Regions from separate parts of the Homo sapiens genome. Here all the other regions are linked to region 3. Evidence: fine-mapped expression QTL. A gene starts in region 3. Each other region holds a variant in brackets. All regions are shown on one strand. Distances are between the middles of the regions.

Region 1 (4,083 bases), 69 kb before region 3:
CCAGATTTTGTAAGTCCCCCCACCCCACTCCCAGTCTCCCCTTCCCTACTCCCAGTCTCCCCTTTCCCTGCAGAGTTTGTGTCCAAAATTGATTCCTTCTGGTGAGTTCTTGGTCTTGCTGACTCTAAGAATGAAGCCGCGGTCCTACACGGTGAGTGTTACAGTTCTTAAAGATGGTGTGTCCGGAGTTTGTTCCTTCAGATGTTCAGATGTGTCCGCAGTTTCTTCCTTCCGGTGGGTTTGTGGTCTTGCTGACTTCAGGGGTGAAGCCGCAGACCTTCGCAGTGAGTGCTACAGCTCTTAAAGGTGGCGCGTCTGGAGTTGTTTATTCCTCTTGGTGGGTTCATGGTCTGGCTGGCTTCAGGAGTGAAGCTGCAGACCTTCATAGTGAATGTTATAGCTCATAAAGGTAGTTCAAACCCAAAGAGTGAGCAACAGCAGGATTTATGGTGACGAGTGAAAGAAAATACACTTCCACAGCCTGGAAGACAACCTGAGCAGGTTGCTACTGCTGCTTGGGAAGGGCGGAGGTGGGGGGGGAAATCCCTTATTTGGCCCCACCCACATGCAGATTGGTCCATTTTACAGAGAGCTGATTGGTCCATTTTACAGAGTGCTGATTGGTCCGTTTTACAGAGTGCTGATTGGTCTGTTTTTACAGAGTGCTGATTGGTGCGTTTACAAACCTTTAGCTAGACACAGAGCGCTGATTTGTGCATTTACAATCCTTTGGCTAGGCAGAAAAGTTCTCCAAGTCCTCACCTGACCCAGAAGCCCAGCCAGCTTCACCTCTCATTTTGATCAGGAGCCAAGACTGTGGTCCTGCCAAATACACGGGTCCTGTTTTCTGTTTGAACTCTTTAGTGCTACTCATCCTTCAAGCTATTTCCTATACTGCCACCAGAGTGACCCTCAAACCCCAAAGTCGTGTCAAATAAAACCTCTAAATCAATTCCCCACCAATCTACTTATAGAATCCTGACTCCCCAGGGTATGAATTCACTCTCTAGACAGTAATGGTTACTTCCAGAATCCCTTCCATCTCTGACCCATGACCTGTGCTTTGGGCCATCTCTCCCAGTGGTTTATATCATCTGCCTGCTTTAGGAATACACAAACTATGAGGAAAACAAGTGCAAAACAAAGGAGTAATGGCACCTGAAATTTTGGTGTCTTCCGAGTGCTCTCTTGACATACACTGAGATCAGCGAATTTTCCTAACAGACAGCTTAGGGGCAGCCAGAGGCTCTTTTTCCCCCTCCTTTCTTCCACTTATCCTCTGAATATCTCCTCATCTTTCCAGAAACCACTCAATGTCCATTGTATTCTACTGCTGCCCAACTAGGAGGAAATTTCTACTTCTTTCTCTGAGCTCCTTTAGTTCTTTGCATCCTTGATTCTGCTCATATCTGGTCCAGAGCCTACCAGGTGCTCAGGTGCTCCTGGGGCTGACCCAGAGGTTGTTGGGAGGTCAGTGGGGACAGATTTAGGGACAGTGTCACATTCCGCTCTGCCATCCCATCACCTCAGAAAGACTCCAGCTACCCAGTTGGAGTCTAATAAATGCTGATGTATCCAGCTGAAGCCTGGACAGTGACCCAGTTCCAGCTGTGGGGAAGATGACTGCTTGCCCGCGGCCAGCTGGGGCCATGCACAAAACTGGGAGGCCGCATCTGTGCAGGGAGCTTGTGTCTGAGGGTGTTGACAGCTGTTTTCTGCCTCAGGAGAAACTGAAACCAGAATACCTGCAGGCACTCCCTGAAATGCTGAAGCTCTACTCACAGTTTCTGGGGAAGCAGCCATGGTTTCTTGGGGACAAGGTAATGGGGGCGTGTGATGGGGACACCACAGATTTGTCATACTTCCTATATTATGGAGGTTTCAGCCCACATATCCTTGGCCTTATCCAGATCACCTTTGTGGATTTCATCGCTTATGATGTCCTTGAGAGAAACCAAGTATTTGAGCCCAGCTGCCTGGATGCCTTCCCAAACCTGAAGGACTTCATCTCCCGATTTGAGGTGATGCCCCCAGCCTCCTTTCTCTTTATGTCTCTTATTCCTTTCCCTCCTTTGTGATGCTTTCCCAGTCCTGGAGCTACACAAAGAATAACTCACATTTTTGGCCATGTGCGGTGGCTCACGCCTGTAATCTCAGCGCTTTGGAGGCTGAGGGAGGCAGATCA[C/T]CTGTGGTTAGGAGTTTGATACCTGCCTGCCCAACATGGCAAAACCCCATCTTTACTAAAAAAAAATACAAAAATTAGCTGGGCGTGGTGGCGAGCACCTGTAATCCCAGCTACTTGGGAGGCTGAGGCAGGAGAATCACTTGAACCTGGGAGGTGGAAGTTGCAGTGAGCCAAGATCGTGCCACTGCATTCCAGCCTGTATGACAGAGTGTGACTCCATCTCAAGAAAAAAAAAAAAAAAAAAAAAAGGAGCCGGGCATGGTGGCTCACACTTGTAATCCCAGCATTTTGGGAGGCCGAGTTGGGTGGATCACCTGAGGTCGGGAGTTCGAGACCAGCCTGACCAACATGGTGAGACCCCTGTCTCTACTAAAAATACAAAATTAGCTGGGCGTGGTGGCACATGCCTATAATCCCAGCTACTAGGGAGGCTGAGGCAGGAGAATCTCTTGAACCTGGGAGGCGGAGGTTGCGGTGAGCCAAGATCGTGCCATTGCACCCCAGCCTGGGCAACAAGAGTGAAACTCCATCTCAAACAAAAAAAAGAAGAAAAGAATAACTTGCATTTATTGAGTGCTGGCTTCATGCCACGAACTGTACCCAGCACATTATACCTATTGTGTTGAATTTGAAATTTACAACATTCCTACAGGGTGGTAGAATTATCTCCCCCATTTTAGAGACAAAGAAACTGAGAATGAGAGGGTCAGTCCTTTGCTCAGGGTCCCAGAGCCAGTGGAGGCTGTGCTGGGCTCCCTGCGAGCCTCTGGATCTATGGTTGGCAGTCAGGGCTCTCCGTTTTGTGACAAAAGAAAAGCCTCAGGCCTTGTCCAGCCTGGGTTTCATAGCCCAGGACACTTTGGAAGAGGCAGAGCACTTCAGGACCACGGATGCAGCTGGCAATAGTAGGACTGACACACAGTAGCATTGATGTTCAATACTGAACCCACAGGCAGTATTCACAGCTACACCCAGAAACTTTGTATGATTGAACCCCCATGTGGGGAATCCTGAGAGCCAGGGCTGTGGCTGGAGCTGGATTAAGGTACATATGTGGGTGCCCCTGTTGAAGGAGCTTATGCTGAAATGCCCTGTGCTGGAGCACTTTCCTTCTCTACCTCTTTTTTTTTTTTTTTTTTTGAGACGGAGTCTTGCTCTGTCACCCAGGCCGGAGTGCAGTGGAGCAATCTCGGCTCACTGCAACCTCTGTCTCCTGGGTTCAAGTGATTCTCCTGCCTCAGCCTCTTGAGTAGCTGGGATTACAGGTGTGTACCACCACGTCCAGCTAATTTTTGTATTTTTAGTAGAGATGGGGTTTTGCTATGTTGGCCAGGCTGGTCTCAAACTCCTGACCTCAGGTGATCCACCCACCTCAGCCTCCCTAAGTGCTGGGATTACAAGCGTGAGCCACCGCGCCTGGCCTCTTCCTCTCTTTTTTTCCCTCCAATGTTCCAGGTGTTCCCCCTGTGAGATGAGTAGCACGCTGATTTTACTCCTGTTCACTGACCTTCTCCTCTGCATGAGGCAGGGTGTGAGGCACAGTGGGAGATGCATAGATGACAGCCCCATCCTGGAAATGAGTGCAGTGAGAGGCCTGCAGGCAGAGCAGCCTGTGAAGTGTGTGCTGAACTTGTTTGAGAGCAGCAAATCCTACATTACTACAGATTTGGGGATTTGAGGCATTTGTCCAACAGGCTTCTGAGCCTTGAATCTGTTTCCCTTTTCCACTCCCCATCAAGAGATCTGCTTGCTCAGCTAGTTCCCATCAGCTCTGGTTCTGCGGTTCTGGTCCAGGCTGAGTGGCCTTGGAGTTAGGTAAGAGGTGGTGGGAAGGGAGGGATGGAGGAGAGCTGAGAGCTATGGCCCGTTATGTGCCAGGGTCAAGCCTGTCACCCAGG
Region 2 (4,073 bases), 20 kb after region 3:
CCCGACCACTCACCCCCACTTCCTGGCACTGGAAGAGCAGAGTGCTAGTGCCTGGCAGGCCCGGCTCCTGCACGGTGATGGACAGGATGGAGTTGTAGGAACATGTGTTGAGCGCCACATTCATGGCCTGGATGCTGTCTAGGCGGTAAGAGTCCAGCTCCTCCTGGGCCAGGTGGAGAGGTCAACTGTGAGGCCACCAGAGCTAGGTGTGGCTTCTGGGAGCTCCTGACCAGCTCATCCTAGCCCTTTGGTGGCCTAGGGCTGAGGTGTCATCTACCTGACTCTTGTGCCTCTGTCCCCAGCCTCTGTCCCCTGTCTCTTCCTAGGCTTGGGTGTGTGTTGTATGTGGGGAGAGTGGCTGCCCTTTGGGGCATGGAGGGTGGAGTTCAAGAGCTAGTGCTTGCTTCCCCACAGCCCAGGCTGGCTATCACTGGGTTTGCTGGGAAGGCTGACCTTGGTCTCAATGTCCAGCAGCTGCAGCCAGCCGTCCCTGACCTGCAGGATCAAGTCTTGGCTCCACACCCGGCCCTGTGCATCCATCTCGAACAGCTTCTGCAAGGCATCCTCGGGCCCCTGGACTCTCTGACTCCCCTGCTTGCATGTCATCAAGTGCTGCAGGGAGAGGGGGAGTCCTAGGACTGGGAGAAAGCTCAGAGAGGTGGACCACAGGCGTGCTGGGTAGAGAAAAGCAGAAGAGGAAGAAGACGTGTCCTCGGCCCCCTTGAGGTAGGAGGTTCCAGGCTTCAGATAAAGCAACTTTCCAGGGCCAATGTGAGGGACGGTGTCGAAGCACTGGGGCCAGGGATAGGGCCTCCAAGTCTGAGTCTGAGGGGCTGCAGGAGGGGTTTGAGGACTCTGGAGGAAGGACAGGCATGGCCTTTACTAGTCCAGGCCAGGTGAGGCAGCTGGGTGGTGGAGGATGTGGGCTCCAGCCACCCAACAAATAACTCCTCTGGAGGTGATACAGGACCCTCAGATTCTGTCCCTGGCTTCCTTTGTTCCTTTTGGGAACTCAGTCCCAGCCCAGTCTTCCTCCTCACTCACCCAGCATTCCTGTCTCCTTCTCCCTGGTTCATGCCTGGAGATATCCATCGTGATCTCAGTCTCCGCTCAAGTCCTTGCCTACTGCTAGGCTGACCATCCAGGAGTTTTTTGCTGTTATCCACTCTCCTTTAGGAGCCCCCTCCCTTCTCCCAGCCAAACATTACCTTCACAAGGCCCCTTCCACCCAGGCTTCTTGTGGTAGGGAGATGCAGCCTGCCTCCTGCCCTTTGACCCCACCCCCCTGCCCAGGGCCCAGCTCTTCTCCCTGTGTTCGCACTGCCAGCATATTCAGGGGACTCTGGCATCATGAGCAAACTCCATCCTCCTCTTGCTCTGCCTGCTGGGCCTAAAAGAAGCCTCTTCCCAGCCTCCACCCTACAGAGAAGCTGAGTCCTCCTGGCCTCTCCTCGGCTGGCTAGGGGAGCTCTGCCTCTGCTGCCCTGTGGGACCTGCTGCCCTGTGGGACCTGCAGACCATCGCCCCAGCTCCCTCCCTGCTTGTTCTCCATTGGAGCCACTAACAAGTGGTGGCCAGGACAGGATGGCTTCTACCCCAGAGCTCCAGCCTGACCCTCTGCCTGCTCTCCCCACCACGCCCTTGTAGCCTGTGCTTCGCCTTCACCTTGGTGTCGACAGCCCTTCAGGCACCTAAATCTTGCAGTGCCTGCATCATCCTCCCTGGTAGAGCCAGAGACTCCATTCTAGCCTTGGAGCAGCCTCGGAGCTGCTCACAGTCACCCTGGAGGCTTGGGCCCAGGTGCCTCCCCTCTCCAACAGTGGCCCTCTCAATCCCCCACAGGGCCCAAAGATCCCAAAGATCCCACACACTCCTGCCTCCAGCCATGCAAGGTCTTGGGCAATGGAGCAGTGCCCTGGGGACTCGGGCAGCAGGGGGTTGGGAGACAGGGGAGGGTAGGTGGGTGGGTGGTTGTAGGTGCTTCTTATCCCATCCTGCTGCTACTTCTTCCTGTCTGGGGACAGGACACTCACCCGCTCAACCTCCAGCCAGGCCTGCTCTGTTCAATCTGACCACCCCTCCCC[G/C]TCCCTGACACTGAGCAGATGCTCTGGCAGGCTTGTTGGATCTGAGTCCATGCGACATGGTTGGGACAGGCTGTTGGCTTCTGGGGCAGGGACTTGTGTGAAGTGTCCATGTTCTGGCAGGGCGGTGGGCACATGGGAACACTTGGGTTTAGTTGGACACTGCCCGGGGGCTGCAGAGGTACTCACCTCCACCCTGTGCTGCAGGAGGGTGGGCTCTGAGGTGAGGTTCTGGGAGTACTCCTTCCGGTGCACTACAAGGGCACAGAGCAAGGGGCGGGAGGTGGGCAGAAGAACGAGGTGAGACTCAGGCAACTGCTGGGGGCAGTTGGTGTGAGGAAGGGGGAGTGGAGGATGGGACATTCTGGGGGCTCAGTGGGAGGGCACGGGAGAGGGGCCTGCCAGGAGCTTACAGTAAATGGCTCTGCTGCTGGGCCTTGACATGTTGACGCTGCTGAGGACGGCTCCCTAGAACCCAAAGTGAACCAGAGGCAGCCATCAGAGCTGGGGAAAGGTGTACCAGGCACAGCAGGGCAGGACAGTTGCTATTGCTCTGACTGGGGGCCTCTGGGACCAGACCCAAAGCCCCTGGCTCCAGGGGCCCTTTCCGGAGCCATCTGCAGCCAGCGTCCTCCACTGAGGAGCCCTCCATCCTGGCTGGGCCTGGAGGCCCCGGGCTGAGGGAAGGGAGGGTCAGGGAGGCCACAGCATGGCTGGGCCTCAGGGAAGGCTCCAGGCCTCCCATGGTTTGGCTGATAAAGCTCATGCCAAGGAGCCCAGGAAACCTGGATGGACAGGGACCTGCGTTCAGATCCTATCTTGGGCCTGGGTATGAAAGATGCTGGATGAGCAGAGGGTTCTGTAGCCGACCCCGCCAGAGGAGGCCCTCTTGTTCGACCCTGTTTCAGTTCTGCAAACTGAGAGGACGCTGATGCTGGCTCTTCAGCTGTAGACCCTCTGGGAAGACTGCATGCATGTGTGTGTGTACTTATGGTGGCACTGCAGGACTCGCCAGTGAGCTGACCTCCCCCAAGTGTCTCCCTAGGCCTCCTGGCTCTTTGCTTTTTGTACTCTGTATCCTCTGCCCAGGTCCCCTCCTGACCCCAACCCTTTAAATTCTAGCTCAAAGATCACCCTCTTGGTGAAGCCCTCCTGGACCATCCAACCCCACCCTGCCCAGGGTACCCTCCTAATGCTGCACTGGACCTTGTACATTTATCTCCAGCAACAATAGTCACAATAGCCACCACGGTGCTGTGAGCCTGGTGCTGAGCCCCTTACCAACATCCTATCAGTTTCTCCTCACTGCCGTCCACTTGTACTTACTTGGCGCCACGTGCCTAGCACTGTTCTAACGGCGTTACCTTCAGTCACTCTAATCCTCAAAACAACCTCACAAGGCAGGTACTGGTATTGTCCCCATTTACCATATGAGGACTCTGAGGCTCAAAGACGGTAACAGGCCTGAGGTCACAAATGAACGTTTAATAGAGAGCAACCCAGATCTGTCCGATTGCAAGCTTCGTGTTTTAATGGTTTATAAACATGCCTCTGCCGCTGGGCTGTGCGCAGTCACAGAGGGAGTCTAGAGAACATACATGTTGAAATGGAGTGGAATTAAATGTGGTGTGTGTGTCCCGGGTGGGGGTGGTGTTAGTCTGTGCGGGTCAAGGGTATGTGTTATCCAAATGAGGTTTGTGGGTATCCACATGTCTACATGGTACACCTCAGTTGTGCAGAAATACTGGACTACCCCGGGTAACATGTGAGAGAGCAACCCATACCCTTGTTTATTAGGACTGTTGTGAAAATGACGTAGGATCTGATAAGATGACTCAGTGTGGAAGGAAATAAACTGCCAGTGAACAATTAAGGGAATGTGGAAGGGACGGCTGGATCTCTGGTTTCCTTGTTTGGGAGGACCCCTTTTCTCTCCAGGGGTAAGGCGGGGCTAGAAGCCTGTTCCCCTTCCCCAGCCTCCCCCAACCCCCA
Region 3 (4,086 bases):
CTGGGCATAGTGGTGTGTGCCTGTAGTCCCAGCTCCTTGGGAGGCTGAGGTGGGAGGACTGCTTGAGCCTGGGAGGTTGAGGCTGCAGTGAGCTGTGATTGCGCCACTGCACTCCAGCCTGAGCGACAGAGTGAGACACTGTCTCAAAACAAAAGAACAAGAAACACACAAAAAAGAAAATACCTGATTTCTACTAGTGACAAAGTGACAGACATGGCTAATAACCAATGTCACTTATTGTCTCTCTTCACAATAAAAGGAAATAACTTTTGCTAGTGGTTAATGGGAATGAAAATACATATCCATCCAGTTCAAGGACCCCTGAATTCTATTTATTCTATCCGGGTTAAGATCCCCTATTTTGCATCCTTCTGTACCAGGCAGGAGAGAGGCAAGGATGGATATACTTGAAGGCTTTCCCTTCTGCCCGCCACCTCTACTAAAGCCACTTACATTAGGAAAGTCCAGGTCTAGCTTGAATTTCACATCCAGCCATTGGCTTCGATCATAGTCAGGAGCTGTAAGAGACGGAATTAAGTGGGACCCAACCTCCTTAATACCCCACCTGACAAGAGCAAAAGATCTAAAGAAATGACTTGGTCCCAATACCTCAAATTCCCAGGCCCCAAAAGCATAACCATTGAGCCTCTGAGCCCTATTTGGTTAAGCATTAAGACGGGTTTGGGCTATGTTAAAAAGAGAACCCCCAGTTCCAGATAAAGGATGTGTCTCTATTCACCCAGATTGGGGCAAACGTCCCACCCGGCCTTGGCGCGACGCCACCACCCTCTGGGCGTAAGAAGACCAGGGCAGGTGGAGGGCCAGCTTGGCTGCACGGGCACGCGGAGCGGCATTACCTTCCCCGCACGTGTACCGTTTCTCCTCATAAGAGGTATCCGTGAACTCCAGGAGCAGGCGGATGGCGTGCGCCAGCTGGGGAAGACAGCGGTTCAGCGACTGCGCAGCTCCCACCCATTCCCAACCCCCGCCCGCTAACGTTCCCCGGCCCGGGGCTGCCGAGTCCCTGCGTCCTGCCGGGGCGGTGGTTAAGCGGCCCCTAGGCCCGGCTCCGGCGTGGTCTCCTCCGCCCCTCCCCACAGGGCCCGCGATCCCAGAGGCTGGGCAGGGGTCGACATCCGTGGCTCGGCAGCTCGAAAAGGCTCCCGCGTAGAGCTGCTCCTGCTGGAGATCGCGGACCCAGAGACCCGCCCTCTCCGCGTCAGTCTCTTTGACCGAGCGGCTCTACCGTTGAGACGGCACTCACCCCACGAATATCCCAGTACCCGAGAACCATAGACGACTCGCACGACATGGTGACGGGCTTCCGAGCCTTCGAGGACTAGGGAAACTGTGAGCGGGAGGGGCTTTATACCCGACATAAGGGGGCGGGGCCCACGCGCGGGCGCCCTGACTCCGCCTCCGCCCCGTTCTCCGTCCCTTGCCTCCGCGGCTCCACAGGGCCGTGCGCAGGCGCGACTAATGCCGGCGTTGGGGTTCAGGGCCTGGCGACCCCGAGGCGGGACCCGGGCAGGAGTGCTGCAGGAGAGCAAAGGACCCGAGGTTGAGGCTCCTCCCTTCCCCGCGGGTGGGAGCCAGACTTCATTCATTAATGGTGCCAGTGAAGACGCGAAAAGCACCACTAGCCAGGCAGTGGGGACCCTAGTTACCCAGGGAGAGCGAGATTCGCGCCGTTTTTACCGAGCCAGCCGGGGCTGGATGAAGGATAGGAAGACTGGGGCAAGGCCGGAGAGTCAGACCAGCCTCTGACCACACAGAGCAGAAGATTCCCCACAGACCAAGCTCCCCTCTCTGTCAGTCAAGGACCTCTGCAACCTGACCCCAACGTGCTTTTCCAGTCCTGTCTCTCCCTCAGCCCGTCACAACTTCATAAGCCAGCCCAACCCAACAATACTTGCTGTTCCTTCTACACACACTTGCATTTCCCACCTTGGAGTGTTTGCTCTGTGATCCTCCTACCTGCATCCTAATTTCCACAGCCTATCCTTCCTCAGCAGCCTTGCTGAAATGTCTGCCTATTCCTTGAAGCCTTCTCAGAACCAACCTCTATCCTGGCCAGAAGAGGTCTCTTATCTTGAATGTTTCCTACCTTTGTTTTATGGGCTTAAGTAATTTATGGATTCCTTATTATAATTTCCTCCTCCAATCCCTCCCACTTCCTAATGCTCACGCATTTAGGGAAATTAATCTTGCCTCTTTGTGTAGGATGGACTGGAGGAGGAAAGGTACTACCATTTTTCATTCACTCATTCATCTGTCCAACAATGTTTAACATGCCTGTTATGGACAGGCACTGTTTTAGGTGCTGGGGATACAGAACTGAACTCAACAGACAAAATCCCTGCCCTCAGGAAGTTTACATTCTAATGGGGAAGAAATAAACTAATATATAGTAAATAGCTAGTAAGTCAGGTGGTGATACACATCCTATGGAGAGAAATAAAATCGAGAAGAGAGATAGGGGGTCTCAGGGTGGGAACTGGGGGAGTCCCAGTAGGAAGGGGATTTATGTTTTTAAAGGTTATGTTCATAGAAGGCCTCATGGAGAAGTTAATCTTTAAACAAAGACCTGAAGGAGGTGAGAGATCAAGCCACTCTGCTGTGGGGGCCACCATGGGCTGATATAAATATAAAACAGAATAATTGCTGTTCCTTTTACAAGCATGTTTGCTCTGCTCCTGCCTGCACCCTAATGTCCATGGCCTAGCCTTCCTCAAGTAGCCGTGCTCAAATGCTCACTTCTTCCTTGAAGCCTTCTCAGAATCACCCTCTATCCTGGCCAGAAGAGTTCTCTCCCTCTCTTATCTCGAATCACTTCCTACCTGCAGGAGGCAGAGAGAACTCCAGGAAAAGGGAAACAGCAAGTACAGGAGTGATCACTCTGTGTTTGAAACCAGAGACTAGATGAGATCACCATGGGAGCACGAGTAGCAGAGATGAGGTCTAAGGGTTTGAGGTGCTCTGGCATATCAACATGTAAAGGTTAGGGAAAAATGAGAGCAAACCAGCAAAGGAGTCTGAAAAGGAGTGGCCAGGGAGGTAGGAGGAAAACAAAAGGTCCCAGAAGCCATGTGAAGATGTTTAAAGGGAGAAGTGATCAACTATGTCAAGTGTGGCTGATCAAGTAAGATGAAGATGGAGAATCAATGGTTGAATTTAGGAAAGTAGGGGTTTTGACCTTGACAGAGCAAGAGACCTGCCCGAGGCCCCTATAGTCATGGGAAGAACTAAGCTTCTGAATTTCGGCAGGGCCCATGCAAATGAAAAGGGGCACAGATTTGCAACAGGGTCAACTCGGGAGACATAGGATTCTAGTTGAATGTGGAGGAGTGACAGAGGAAGGAGTCCGGAGCTGCTCTGAGGGTTCTGGCCAGGCCTCTGCAGCACAGCTCTCAGGGCAGTCTGAGAGCCTAGATCCCCTAGCTCAGGTGTGGGAAATCACATTTGCCCATCAGTTCAACTGAAGCAAGGTTGGGACTTTTTAAAAGGGCATTTTGCTAAACAGAAGAAAGGAAGAGTACAAACCACATGGACAGGTGAAATTTATAATGCCTGTGTCTCTCCTCCCAAGAAAGCAAAAGGCCAGTCACAAATTCACCTGAGGTATAAGATTAACATTTATTGAGCACCTATCATATGCCAGGCAATATCTAAGTGTTTACGTATGTTAGCTAATTTATTCCAATTTAAGCTTCACAACAACTTTAGGAAGTAGGTGTTATGCCCATTTTCTTTTCTTTTTCTTTTTTTTTTTTTGCAGTTTTTGCATTACTTTCTTTTTTTTAAATTTTATTATTATTACACTTTAAGTTTCAGGGTATATGTGCACAATGTGCAGGTTTGTTACATATGTATACATGTGCCATGTTGGTGTGCTGCACCCATTAACTCCTCATTTAACACTAGGTATATCTCCTAATGCTATCCCTCCCCCCTCCCCCCACCCCACAACAGTCCCTGGAGTGTGATGTTCCCCTTCCTGTGTCCATGTGTTCTCATTGTTCAGTTCCCACCTATGAGTGAGAACATGCGGTGTTTGGTTTTTTGTCCTTGCGATAGTTTGCTGAG
Region 4 (4,086 bases), 27 kb before region 3:
ACCACTTTTTAGTCTGACCCCTGCAGCCGGAGTCTCCCAGAGCCCTTGGGAACTCGGCAGCGGAGAGAAGGCTGAGGGATTCTGCGGGCAGGGAGGAGAAGGGAGAAGAGCTTTGCTCCGTTAGGATCTGGCTGGTGTCTCAAGCGCACAGCCAAGTCGCTGTGGACCTAGCAAGGGCTGGATGGACTCATGGAGCCTCAGGGCGGGTTGGGGAAGCTGGCGAGGCCGAGCCCCGCTTTGGGCTTCTGGGCGCCCTGACCTCGCTCCCGGAACCCTGGGGACTGGGAGGCGGGAGGGGGCTTATTGATTCCAGCCCCGGGCGCTCGCTCGGGGGCCTACAGAATGGCGTGTTTCGGGGTTGTGGCGGGCCGAGGGGCGGGGTCGCAGCAAGGCCCCGCCTGTCCCCTCCTGGGCCTCTCAAAGTCTGAGCCCCGCTCCGCTGATGCCTGTCTGCAGAATCCGCACCAACCAGCACCATGCCCATGACTCTGGGGTACTGGGACATCCGTGGGGTAAGCGAGGGTCCTCTGGTGGGTGGGACAGGGGGCGGAGGCGGGGATGTGTGGAGTAGCTGCAGGACTGGCTCTAGGGACCGTTCCTCTTCAGGGCTGCCCGCCTCAGAAGGGCCTGTGCATGACGCTGTGTGTGTGTTTGGGGGTGGGGGCGGGTAGAGGAGGCGACGGGTACGTGCAGTATAGACTAGGGGCTGGCCTGGTGCAGAGAAAGTCACCAAGTCAGGGACCCTCCATCTCTGACCCGAGCCGCGGGCCATCTCTCCCAGCTGGCCCACGCCATCCGCTTGCTCCTGGAATACACAGACTCAAGCTATGTGGAAAAGAAGTACACGCTGGGGGACGGTAATGGCACCCTCGTGTCCGGGCCCTGCCCACTCACGCTGAGTTGGCACCAAGCAACCCATGGTGGCCACCTGTGGCTGCCTCTGCAGGCCTCCCCTGCTGGAGCTGCAGGCTGTCCCTTCCCTGAGCTCCCGTGAGTGAGCCCTCTGGCCTTGCAAGGCAGAATGCTGGGGCGGGATGCTGGACACCCTGTCTAATTGGGTTGGGTGTCCCTCAGAGCTTCCCTAAACCCTGGAAGCCTTAGCCGTTGTGGGGTCCAGAGCCCTCAGTGGGATTCTTTCTCCCTGAACCCTGGGATGTGGGACTGAGTGGTCAGATTCTAGATCCACCTGTCTCAGGGATCTTGCCACTGGCTCCTTGGGAGGGTCCCCGGGAAGGAGGGCTGGGCTCTGGGGAGGTTTGTTTTCACTTCTTCCCCACCACAGCTCCTGACTATGACAGAAGCCAGTGGCTGAATGAAAAATTCAAGCTGGGCCTGGACTTTCCCAATGTAGGTGCAGGGGAAGGGGCGGTTTTGGGGGAAAGTGCGACGTGTCTCTGACTGCATCTCCTCTCCCCACCTTAGAGGTGTTAAGATCAGGAGTCTTCTGCCCAATTCCTCTCACTCTTGGCTGTCTACACAGCCCTTGCATGATGTTCTGTGTCCCAGCTCATTTATTAGTGTGACAGTATTTCTATCTCAGGCCTGCCATGAGCAGGCCCTGGTCTCCTCTCTGCCCTTGCATATGGGAAGGGGATGCTGGGGAGCCTGGTGGCCCA[A/G]CTGAGCTTCCCCGGTTTCCCATCTATCCAGCTGCCCTACTTGATTGATGGGGCTCACAAGATCACCCAGAGCAATGCCATCCTGCGCTACATTGCCCGCAAGCACAACCTGTGTGAGTGTGGGTGGCTGCAATGTGCGGGGGGAAGGTGACCTCCTCCTTGGCTGGGCTGTGATGCTGAGATTGAGTCTGTGTTTTGTGGGTGGCAGGTGGGGAGACAGAAGAGGAGAAGATTCGTGTGGACATTTTGGAGAACCAGGTTATGGATAACCACATGGAGCTGGTCAGACTGTGCTATGACCCAGATTTTGTGAGTCCCACACCCCACTCCCAGTCACCCATTTCCCTGCCTTTTGGCCCAGACCAGGGAGGGACTTCCAAAGTCAGGTCTGTAGCAGACTCCGGCCAGCTGACTGGAGACGTCTATAACCTGGTTCTCCAAAATGTCCACACGAATCTTCTCCTCTTCTGAAGATTCTTGTGGACATTTTGGAGAACCAGACCACGGACAACTGGATGCAACTGGTCATGATCTGCTACCACCCAGAGTTTGTGAGTCTCCCCAGTGAGCTGCACCTGGCAGAGTTTGGATTTGGGGCCAGGACTCTTGCATTCCTGCACGCACTGGTCTTTTCTTAAGTCCTTGGTACCACTCATCCTCCAAGTGCTTTCCCATACTATCAGCAGTTATTCTCACGACTCCAATGTCATGTCAACAAAAGCAGAGGCAATTCCCACCAATCTTAGGACACGATCCAGGCATCCCACGGTGGAAATTCAATTCCTAGATGGTAAAATTTGTGTTCAGAATCTCCTTCATCTCCTCTGGCCTCTGGCCTCTGTCATGGGTCATTTCTGTCAGTTGATTTATATCACCTACCTGCTCCTAGAATATACAGACTCAAGTACAAGACCAAGGAATGTAATGGCACCCTCAAATTGCATCTTCTCCTCAAAGTTTTCCAAGTGCTGTCATTGACATGCACCGGGATCTGCGCATTTTCATAACAGACAGCTCAGAGGCAGCCAGAGGGCCTTTATTCCTCTCCCTCCTTCCTTTCAACTTGAACTTCTCATCTCCCTGGAAACTAGTCAATGTTCATTGTTTTCTTCTGTCACCCCATTAGAAGGAACTTTCTACTTCTTTCCCTGAGCTCCTTTAGTTCTTTGCATCCTTGATTCTGCCCCTGTCTGGATCCAGAGGCTGCCAGGTGCTCGGGCGCTCATGCGGCTGACCCAGAGGCTATTGGGAGGCCAGTGAGGACAGATTCAGGAAGAGCATCTCATTCTGATCACTTCAGATAGGGTCTGGCACCCAGTCAGAGTCTAATAAATGCTGATGTATCCAATTGAAGCCTGGGCACTGCCCCGGTTTTAGTTGTGGGGAAGATGGCTGCTTGCCTGTGGCCAGCCTGGGCCATCTACAGCCCTGGGGAGGCCACGTCTGTGCAGGGAGCTTTTGTCTGAGGGTGGTGACAGCTGTTTTCTGCCTCAGGAGAAACTGAAGCCAAAATACTTGGAGGAACTCCCTGAAAAGCTAAAGCTCTACTCAGAGTTTCTGGGGAAGCGGCCATGGTTTGCAGGAGACAAGGTAAAGGAGGAGTGATATGGGGAATGAGATCTGTTTTACTTCATGTGTTTCGGGGTTTTCAGCCCACACATTCTTGGCCTTCTTCAGATCACCTTTGTGGATTTCCTTGCCTATGATGTCCTTGACATGAAGCGTATATTTGAGCCCAAGTGCTTGGACGCCTTCCTAAACTTGAAGGACTTCATCTCCCGCTTTGAGGTGATGCCCCCATCCTCCTTTCTCTTTGATGCCCCTTGTTCCTTTCTCTCCTTTCAGATGCTTTCCCAGTCCTGGAGCTACACAAAGAATAACTCGTATGTATTGAGTACGGGCTTCATGCCAGGAATCATGCCCAGCACATTATACCTATCGTGTAGAATTTGAAATTTCCAACATTCCTACAGGGTGACAGAATTATCTTGCCCATTTTAGAGATAAGAAAACTGAGAATGAGAGGGTCAGTCCTTTGCTCAGGGTCCCAGAGCCAGTGGAGGCTGTGCTGGGCTCCCTGTGAGCCTCTGGATCTATGGGTGGCAGTCAGGGCTCTCCCATTTGTGACAAAAGGAGAAGCCTCAGGCCTCATCCAGCCTGGGTTTCACAGCCCAGAACACTTTGAAAGAGGCAGAGCACTTCAGGACCACGGATGCAGCTGGCAATAGTAGGACTGACACACAGTGGCATTGATGTTGAGTACTAAACCTGCAGGCAGTATTCATAGCCACCCCCAGAAGCTTTGCATGATCGGACCCCCATGTGGAAAATCCTGAGATCCGGAGCTGTGGCTGGAGCTGGATTAGGGTACATATGTGGGTGCCCCTGTTGAAGCAGTGTGTGTTGAAGTGCTCTGTGCTGGGGCACTCTCCTTCTTTATCTTTCTTCCTCTCTTTTTTTCCCTCCAATG
Region 5 (4,086 bases), 110 kb before region 3:
TCCTGGTCAAGACCCAAGGCCCTTCAGTTCAGAAGACACCCCTTGCCAATTCATCCTGGCCACTTACATGTCACAGAATTGAACGTTGGAGCCCGATGAGGGTGGGAGGTGGTGAGTCCAGGGCTCCTTCACCCATGCTGGGCCTCGGCTGCCCAAGGATCCCCCTTAGAAGGGTGAGGGGAACTCACTTTTCAAGTAGGTGAATAATTTAATAACACAAGTGAGCTGTGTCTTGTCTTTGTTTTAACAAGGAAGCAGGATTAAAAGATTTTTCTAGAAGGTCTTTTGGAGGCAAGAACTGCCTGTCCTGTCTGCCAGCACTTAGGACTCCATATTTACTTGTTGAATTTGTCATTTAATAGAATCCTTCAGTTCACTTTCTTGTCTCCTGTTTTTCTTAGTGTGTGTTGAGGCTTAGCTCTAAGAATATTACTAATTTAAAGTTCCTTAGCAGCCTCTTCACGGTTTATTTTTGAAACGAGGTCTTGCTCTATTGTCCAGGCTGCAGTGACCTCCTGGGCTCAAGTGATCCTCCCACCCCAGCCTCATGAGTAGCTGGGACTACAGGCACGTGCCACCTGTAGACGGGGTTTCACCATGCTGTGCAGGCTGATCCTGAACTCCTGGGTTCAAAGTGCTGGGATTACAGGCGTGAGCCACCGCACCCAACCCACAATTTATTTTTTAAACAACTTGCCTCTGGTTTCTTAGTTTCTCAGAAATTTCTCTTTCAAATATTTATCAAGAGAAAATAATCTTAAAAGGCCTTAATACTTCTTCCTATTTGAAAAGAAAATCATTTTCATTAAAAAAAATTTGGAAAATATAGAAAAATAGGAAGAAATAAAAGCCCACTCATAATCTACCAGTTTCACCAAATATTTGCTGCATGCCTGAGATATATGTAGATATTTTAATGCATATCTGTGCATATTTCTGTATTCTTTTCAGTTCTTTTTAAAATGCTATTTTTAAGTTGAGATCACAAGAATGATTTAGGCTTTTTAAAATTTTTTATTATTATTATTATTTTTGAGATGGAGTCTCACTCTGTCGCCCAGGCTGGAGTGCAGTGGTGCAATCTTGGCTCACTGTAACTTTTGCCTCCTGGGTTCAAGTGATTCTTCTGCCTCAGCTTCCCAAGTAGCTGGAATTACAGTTGCGTGACACCACACCTGGCTAATTTTTTGTATTTTTAGTAGAGATGGGGTTTCACCATGTTGGTCAGGCTGGTCTCGAACTCCTGACCTCAGGTGATCCACGTCAGCCTCCCAAAGTGCTGGGATTACAGGTGTGAGCCACCGTGCCTGACCCCGGCCTATTTTAAAAAGTATTTTAACATACGTCTTTCCACATGTCATCAAAATACTCTGCAAATATGAATGTGAACTACTGTGCACCACCCCCGGTGAGCCTCCCATGGTTTATGATTACAGCTCTCCTCTGTTAAGAATGACTGTGTCCTAATGTGACCAACAGTGTGCACTCTGGGTTTGACTTCTGTTTCCACCACTTTCAGGCTGTGTGACCTTAGGCAAGTTACTTCCCCTCGCTGTGCCTCCAGGTCCTCACCCATTTCATGGGGATAATAATAGCACTTTTCTCACGGGTTGATTTTGAATTCATTCAGCCACTGGATATAAAGCACCAAGCAAGAACTCAGTAAATCTTAGCTATTATTATCTTTGCCTAAATCTCTCCAGATTATTCCCTTAGTCTAGATGCCCTGAGTGAAATCACCAGGTCCAAGGTAGAATTTTTTTTACTGTTCTTGATAGAAATGAATCAAAGTATGTGAGCAGAAATAAAAAGTCATTTCCTTGCCCTCGACCTTGCCTGCACCTTCCATGCCAGCCCGCCACCTCCTCTCCTCTTTTGGAGCCCCACCCCCTGCCCTTCCTCTCGACCTGCTGTGTGTGCCTGCGTGTGTGAAGGTGCCCGCATCTTCTTCCTGGTCAGGGGCCAGATCTCACATGGAATGGGGGGGTGAGGGGGAAGGAGGGTGGGTGGCAGAGGGAGTAAATAAAATAGGCAACCCAACCTGTCTCCTTCCAAGGTTTGGGACCTGTCCTGAGTGAAGTCGACCCTGGGGGACTGTCCCTCATCTGTCCCTAAAGCTCTCAGACTGGGAAGTATGAGGGCTGTGTGCCAGGCCACATCTCACATGCCCTGCACGGGGTCCCCTCTCCGTGTCCACTCCTGGGGG[A/G]GTGGAGGGGAGCAAGTGGGGAGCTATCTGGGCCCCCAGGCTGCGGTAGAGGATGGGTAAGGGTGTTTGGTTAGGGTGACAATAATCCTGATTTCTAAACCCTACATCAGAACATTTACCCTATCAAAGTATTGCCTCACTTATGAATGTATTCATATGAAATTCCAATAAAGGCTTAAGCCTTAACTCAGGTTTAATCCAATGTTTGAGAAATCACTATATTTTCAAAATGAGAGTGAAACTGCCCAAATTAGGATGCCCTGGGCAACCTGGGGTGGGTGGTTTCCGCAGCTGGGCCTGAAGCAGGCAGCCTGCAAGTCTAGAAATGGGGGCGATCTAAGTGCCTTGCTTTTGTGCGCATACCTGTCTTCTCCCGGCAGACCCTCAATGTCACCCCCACCCCCTGGCAACATGGGAGAGCTGAAAGAAAACCTCTGAGGGCTGCAAAATATGGAAAAAAAAAAAAGTTGAAATTGACAAATGTTTAATGAAATGCCTTCAGAAAGTAGCATGTCAACTTCAATATTTGTTAAGTCACATGCCATTATATTTGAAAACAATTTGTAAGTTGGATTTTTGACAAGAGTTCCAGAATATGCAATATGATTAAAGAGAAAGCATAGCCAATAGTAAATTAAATGAGTTACTCATAGTCAAGTAATTTCAAAAGCAAATTTATAAAAACCCCTTTAAAGCAAAGCAGTTATATTTAATGAGGGGGTGTGGGTGCATTTTAAATGCAAGTGAGTGTGGGGCCTCCAAGAATCAGATGCAGGGTCTATAAAGGACTTACTTAAAATGGCTCAGCCCCGCAGTCCCACTCTGGGCCAGGGGGGTTGGCTCAGATTTTGGTCTTGCCGTCACCTTCAACTCTCCTGCCTCCCTAAATAGTCTGGGCAGATTTGGAGCAGCTACTGCTGCCACTGGCATCTTCTCTGAATCTGTGCAACAGATATGCACAGCTGGAATTTCTGTCTCCCCTTTGCAGATGAGAGACTGACCTGGGTTTAAACCTGAGTGTTCTGTTTATTAGCTGGGCAAGTCAGCCCTCCTCCCTGACTTCCCAGGCCTGGAGGAGATATGCAAAGGGGAGTGGCTACCAATCCATTCCCACCAGGGTCCCAAGCTACTGCTGGGGTATGCTGGTGTGTCTACTACGCATTTGCCATGGTGGGGTAAAATACCTATGAGCACCTGGCATTGGGCTGAACTCTTTGTAAGTGTGAATGTACTTCCAGCTCCTAGAACTCTGCATGATATCTATCACCATATTCCCTCGCGTCAACAGGGAGAATGAGGTTCGGGAGGTTATGTAACTTATCCAGGATGACTCAGCTAATGAGTGCCAGAGCTGGGATTTGACCCCAGAACTGTCAGGCTGCAAAGTCTTTGTTCCTCCTACTCTATCATGGTCCCTGGGGTACGTGTCTGGTTGAGGGGGTCCCTCTAGGGGTGGGGTGCTCAGGGAAGGGACAGGGTCAGGCTCTGATGAGCAGAAGGATCAGTGCGGGTGAGTCTAGAGGCAGAAGGGTCATGGAGGAGGCTCCTGCCACATCCCGGGTGTGATTGACAAGGACCTGGCTGGTGGCAGTGTGGGTGGAGAGGAGCTTTTGTGGGGAGGCTGCTAAGACCAGTAGTTAAGACAGAGGTGGCAGAGGTGGCCACAGGATTGTGATTGGCTGGCACAGCCTGATATGAGATCGAGAATGTGAATGCTCTGAGGCGGCTATTAGCCTGACCCCTCCCGGTTACCTTATACCCATCCCAGTCCATACACTGCCAGAGAGGTACTGGGTTTGTGATCCCCGGGCTCTATCCCACGGCACAGCTGTCACTTATTAGCCATAAGATCCTGAAAATTTCTAGGAACTCTGAGCTTT
Region 6 (4,086 bases), 220 kb after region 3:
AATGAACTACTGATACACATAACGACACTAATGAATCTCGAAATCATTATGCAGAGTGCAGAAGTCAGATACAAAAGAGTATATGCTGTGTGATTCCATTGATGTAAAATGCAAACTAATCTCTAATGACAGAAAGCAGATCAGTGGTTACCTGGGGCCAGGGAAGAGAGACAGCTGGATGGCAAAGGGCATGAGGCATCTTTTGGTGAAATGTTCATGTTCTGTGTCTTGATTGTGGAGCTGGTTTTACAAGTGTATAATTTTCTTTCTTTCTTTCTTTCTTTCTTTCTTTTTTTTGAGACAGAGTCTCACTCTGTCGCCAGGTTGGACTGCTGTGGTGCGATCTCGGCTCACTGCAACCTCCAGCTCCCTGGTTCAAGTGATTCTCCTGCCTCAGCCTCCTGAGTAGCTGGGATTACAGGCACACGCCACCGTGCCTGGCTAATTTTTGTATTTTTAGTAGAGTCGGAGTTTCACCATGTTGGCCAGGGTGGTCTCAATCTCCTGACCTCGAGATCCGCCCACCTCAGCCTCCTAAAGTGCTGGGATTATAGGCGTGAGCCACTGCGCCCGGCCTCACAAGTATATAATTTTCAAAAGTCATTGCATTGTAAATTTTAAATGGATGTGGTTTAACTATACATAAATTATTCCTCTATAAAGTTGATTAGGAAAAAATAGATAATACACATGGTACAAAATTCCAAAGGTACAAAAGATTTTAAGTAAGTGCCCAACCTTAGAAGCAACCACTGTTACCAGTTTACTATGTATATTTCTAGACATATTTTTACTTAATATAAATTGCAGGTCTTTACAAATCAGTCCATTTTAAAAAACCCTCTTTCTTTTTAAAAAGTGTCCATTTATGGCTGTACCATAATTTGCAGACCCAGTCTCTAGTCAATGGTCACTAGATTATCTCCAATCTTTTTACAAACAAAAATGAGCATAAAATTGCTGGACTAAAAAGTATGTGTATTTTTTTTTCTATTTTTAAAGATATTGTTAAATTATCCTCCGTAGAAGTTATAGCAATGTATATTTCCACCAGCAATGAGAGTGTCTATTTTTCCATCCCTTGCTGACACAGCATGTTACAAAATATTCAATTTGATAGGTAAAAAAGTAAATATCACTATAATTTTATTTTGTGTTTCACGTTGTGAGCGAGATTGAACATCTCTTCACGTTTTTTAAGAGTCATTTACATTATTATTTGCTTTTATAGTTGCTTTTTTGTAAACTATTTAGATCTGCCTGCTTTTCTATTGGGTTGTTGGTCTTTTTCACATTGTTTTATAATAGTTCTTTATATATGGTCTTGGCTCAGATTCCCTATGAAACAGAACCTGAAGCAAAGCTCACATGGTAATGTTTTACTGAGGGAGTGCAAGCCCAGACCAGCATGCACGAAGGTAAAAATGGAAGGGAGGACAAAAAGGAGAGAAAGCAAATACAACATGGTGCATTATCAGGCTGACCATAGCTTCAGGAGGATACAGACAGTTGCTCAGTTAAGTTGCCCAGTTGTCAGAAGTGAAGGATGGTGGGAATGGGAACAAGAGGATTTTATCTGTCCTCCTATCTGCAGCCTCTCATAGATCCTTTTTTGCCACAGGGCATTAACTATCCTGCACTTCTGGGTTGCCTCACCTGCACAGATGGTGGGAAAGCCAGGTCCTATGTCCTACCTGAGACCAAAGGAGGAGAGCATCATATCTTCCAGATTTGGGTATCTGTGCAACTGTGGCCCTTGCCCAGCCTTCATCCTGGGGGGAGATGAGACAGGCAGTGTTGCTGGGAAGAAGGCAGAGAGGGCAGTGTTTAGGGCACCCTATGGAGCAAGCCACTGAGGCCCTGGAGAGGCAGGTAGATGTGAGCAATTCTGGAGAGAATAATAGTTATAGATATAGATACAAATATAATAATATATACTTATAATAATATGTATAATTATTGTTTTGCTGTATTATAATTTTTAGATATCCTCACTCACCCCCCCAAGTTTGTTATTTGACTTTAATCATTTATGTGATTCTTTTTGACCATGCAGAAATATTTGATTTTTATCTGACTGAATTTATCAATTCTTTATGTTATGGCTTCAGCCTTTTCTGCCCCTGAGATTATGAAAAAACAAACAAGCAAACAAAACCAAAAAAACTTTTATATTTTCTTCTTGTGCTTCTGGAATTTCATTTGTCAAAATTTAAATATGTCTGATCCATCTGGACTTTATTTTGCTATAAAAGCATATATTATAGATATAATTTT[AT/A]TTTTTCCAAGAGGCTACACATTGTCCCTGATGTAAAAGGCCACCTTTATCACATATTAAATATACTTATTTTTGAAGAGTTCTTATTGAACATGCTTTCACCTAATGGGTCTGAAGTTTACTAGGTCTCAGAAATGATTTATGGGAGGAAAGTCACAAAATTGTAGAGCTGGACTCTGTCCTGCACTATTATCCACTCTATAGAAGACAATAGTGGTCAAATAACAGAGTTAAAACATAATTAATATTTCATTTTGTAATACTATGGCCAAAGTTTCATCTCCTTCATTTCACCAAGATGTTGCTAGTTGTGGAGACATCGCCCAGTCCCGATGTATTGTTGTTTGAATTAAAGCTTCTTTCCCTGGAGAATGTTGTAAAATATAAATGTAGTTTTAGATGTGCTATTTTTACTTGGCATGGTCTGTGGGATAGCCTCAAAGGTATTTAAAATGCAAAAAAACAAAAACAAAAACAAAAACAAACAGTAAGACAGGAATGAATAGGAAAAAGAAAAAACATGTTTGAAAGAAATTGGACCTTCGAAACAACACTTGCCCTAGAGAATTAACCATTTATTTGTGCACCCAACCCCCTCCCCCCCCCATTGATTTAACTTGTACATCCTTCTGGCATAACCCCAAGACAATTTTAATGTCATTTAATTATTTATAGTCCATCCCTCCTGGCCAGACGGAAGCAAGCCATGCCTACATTTAATTCCAGGGCTTAGCCTAGAGCCTGAAACAGAATAGTTGCTTAAAACACATTTCTGAAATGAATGAAATAAAGAGTAGGTCAATGAATTAACCCAAGTCCTTTGAAAGCTTCTTCTGATGTCATCATTTCTTCCTCCAACCCCACCTGGACTCTGGGGTCCCACTGTGCCCTTTTACCTAATCACTGACTTCCTCACTTGCCCATTTATGTGTCTGTCTTCCCCATCAAAGTGTGAACTCTGAAGATGACTGCCTTAATCATTTTTATACCCCTAGCACCTGATATACACTATAAACATTTGTGGGGTGAATAAATGAATGAATTACAGTTACAGAGGCAAGCAATTAGAAAAGCTCTGAAAGTTGTTAAGGGGAAGCTAGAGTATCTGGTCTTTGCATCCAGAAAAACAGACTTCTCTTTCCAAAGGAGAAAATGTGGTTAAGTAGAAAGCCCATATGCTTTGGAGAGAGAAGGCCTGAGTTCTAATTCCAGCTCTTCCACTTACTTTGGGCAAGTCACTTATCTTATCTGAGCTTCAGTTTCCTGCACTGTAAACTGGGAATAGGATTGGAGATAATGTTTGGAGGTGTCCACCACAGGCATGGGCATGTAGTAGGCTATAGCTGTGCTTGGCTATTATTACTATTTACACTTATCGTTATTAAGAGGTGTAGGAGGAATACAGAGCAAAGAGAGCCGTTAAATTTAGAATTTAGGGTTGTGTGCGGTGGCTCATGCCTGTAATCCCAGCACTTTGGGAGACTGAGGCAGGTGGATCACTTGAGGTCAGGAGTTGGAGACCACCCTAGCCAACATGGTGAGACTCCGTCTCTACTAAAAATACAAAAAAAATTAGCAGGGCGTGGTGGTAGTCCCAGCTACTCGGGAGGCTAAGGCAGGAGAATCGCTTGTACCTGGGAGGCAAAGGTTGCAGTGAGCCGAGATGGTGCCACTGCACACCAGCCTAGGCAACAGGAGACTCTGTCAAAAAAAAAAAAAAAAATTAGAATTTGGGTAGCTTTGGAGGAGATAGTTTGGGTGTGGAACGGAGTGAGGGGGACCTCTAGTCATTGTCATGGTGATACTAA

What was found. PIP is the estimated chance that this variant, and not a neighbour inherited with it, causes the effect.
Region 1: its variant is fine-mapped to the expression of GSTM3 in sun-exposed skin (GTEx, PIP above 0.99). The same link has a PIP of 0.9 or more in tibial nerve.
Region 2: its variant is fine-mapped to the expression of GSTM3 in left ventricle (GTEx, PIP above 0.99). The same link has a PIP of 0.9 or more in cerebellar hemisphere, cerebellum and sigmoid colon.
Region 4: its variant is fine-mapped to the expression of GSTM3 in subcutaneous fat (GTEx, PIP above 0.99). The same link has a PIP of 0.9 or more in sun-exposed skin, tibial nerve, transverse colon, unexposed skin and visceral fat.
Region 5: its variant is fine-mapped to the expression of GSTM3 in whole blood (INTERVAL, PIP above 0.99).
Region 6: its variant is fine-mapped to the expression of GSTM3 in vagina (GTEx, PIP above 0.99).

The regions. Positions count from the first base shown.
Region 1 is chr1:109,669,563-109,673,645 of GRCh38, forward strand. It overlaps GSTM2 (glutathione S-transferase mu 2), which reads left to right. Exons shown (of 8, transcript NM_000848.4): 5 at 1-9; 6 at 1,725-1,820; 7 at 1,911-2,021. Among named protein-coding and RNA genes, the nearest start is that of GSTM2, 3.5 kb to the left of the region's middle. RefSeq lists an enhancer at 262-361. The variant C/T (reference allele first, on the strand shown) is at 2,186.
Region 2 is chr1:109,759,225-109,763,297 of GRCh38, forward strand. EPS8L3 (EPS8 signaling adaptor L3) reads right to left here. Exons shown (of 19, transcript NM_133181.4): 2 at 2,495-2,549; 3 at 2,271-2,335; 4 at 454-612; 5 at 14-163. The coding sequence starts at 2,525. LOC124904258 (a long non-coding RNA gene) reads left to right here and starts at 641. Exons shown (of 2, transcript XR_007066303.1): 1 at 641-726. RefSeq lists an enhancer at 1,342-2,071. The variant G/C (reference allele first, on the strand shown) is at 2,085.
Region 3 is chr1:109,738,976-109,743,061 of GRCh38, forward strand. It overlaps GSTM3 (glutathione S-transferase mu 3), which reads right to left and starts at 2,063. Exons shown (of 9, transcript NM_000849.5): 1 at 1,978-2,063; 2 at 1,265-1,536; 3 at 858-933; 4 at 454-518. The coding sequence starts at 1,312. RefSeq lists a silencer at 1,273-1,502.
Region 4 is chr1:109,711,837-109,715,922 of GRCh38, forward strand. GSTM5 (glutathione S-transferase mu 5) reads left to right here and starts at 415. Exons shown (of 8, transcript NM_000851.4): 1 at 415-512; 2 at 782-857; 3 at 1,283-1,347; 4 at 1,648-1,729; 5 at 1,825-1,925; 6 at 3,111-3,206; 7 at 3,294-3,404. The coding sequence starts at 477. The variant A/G (reference allele first, on the strand shown) is at 1,617.
Region 5 is chr1:109,633,020-109,637,105 of GRCh38, forward strand. No RefSeq gene overlaps it. Among named protein-coding and RNA genes, the nearest start is that of AMPD2, 15 kb to the left of the region's middle. The variant A/G (reference allele first, on the strand shown) is at 2,207.
Region 6 is chr1:109,955,362-109,959,447 of GRCh38, forward strand. No RefSeq gene overlaps it. Among named protein-coding and RNA genes, the nearest start is that of AHCYL1, 27 kb to the right of the region's middle. The variant AT/A (reference allele first, on the strand shown) is at 2,278.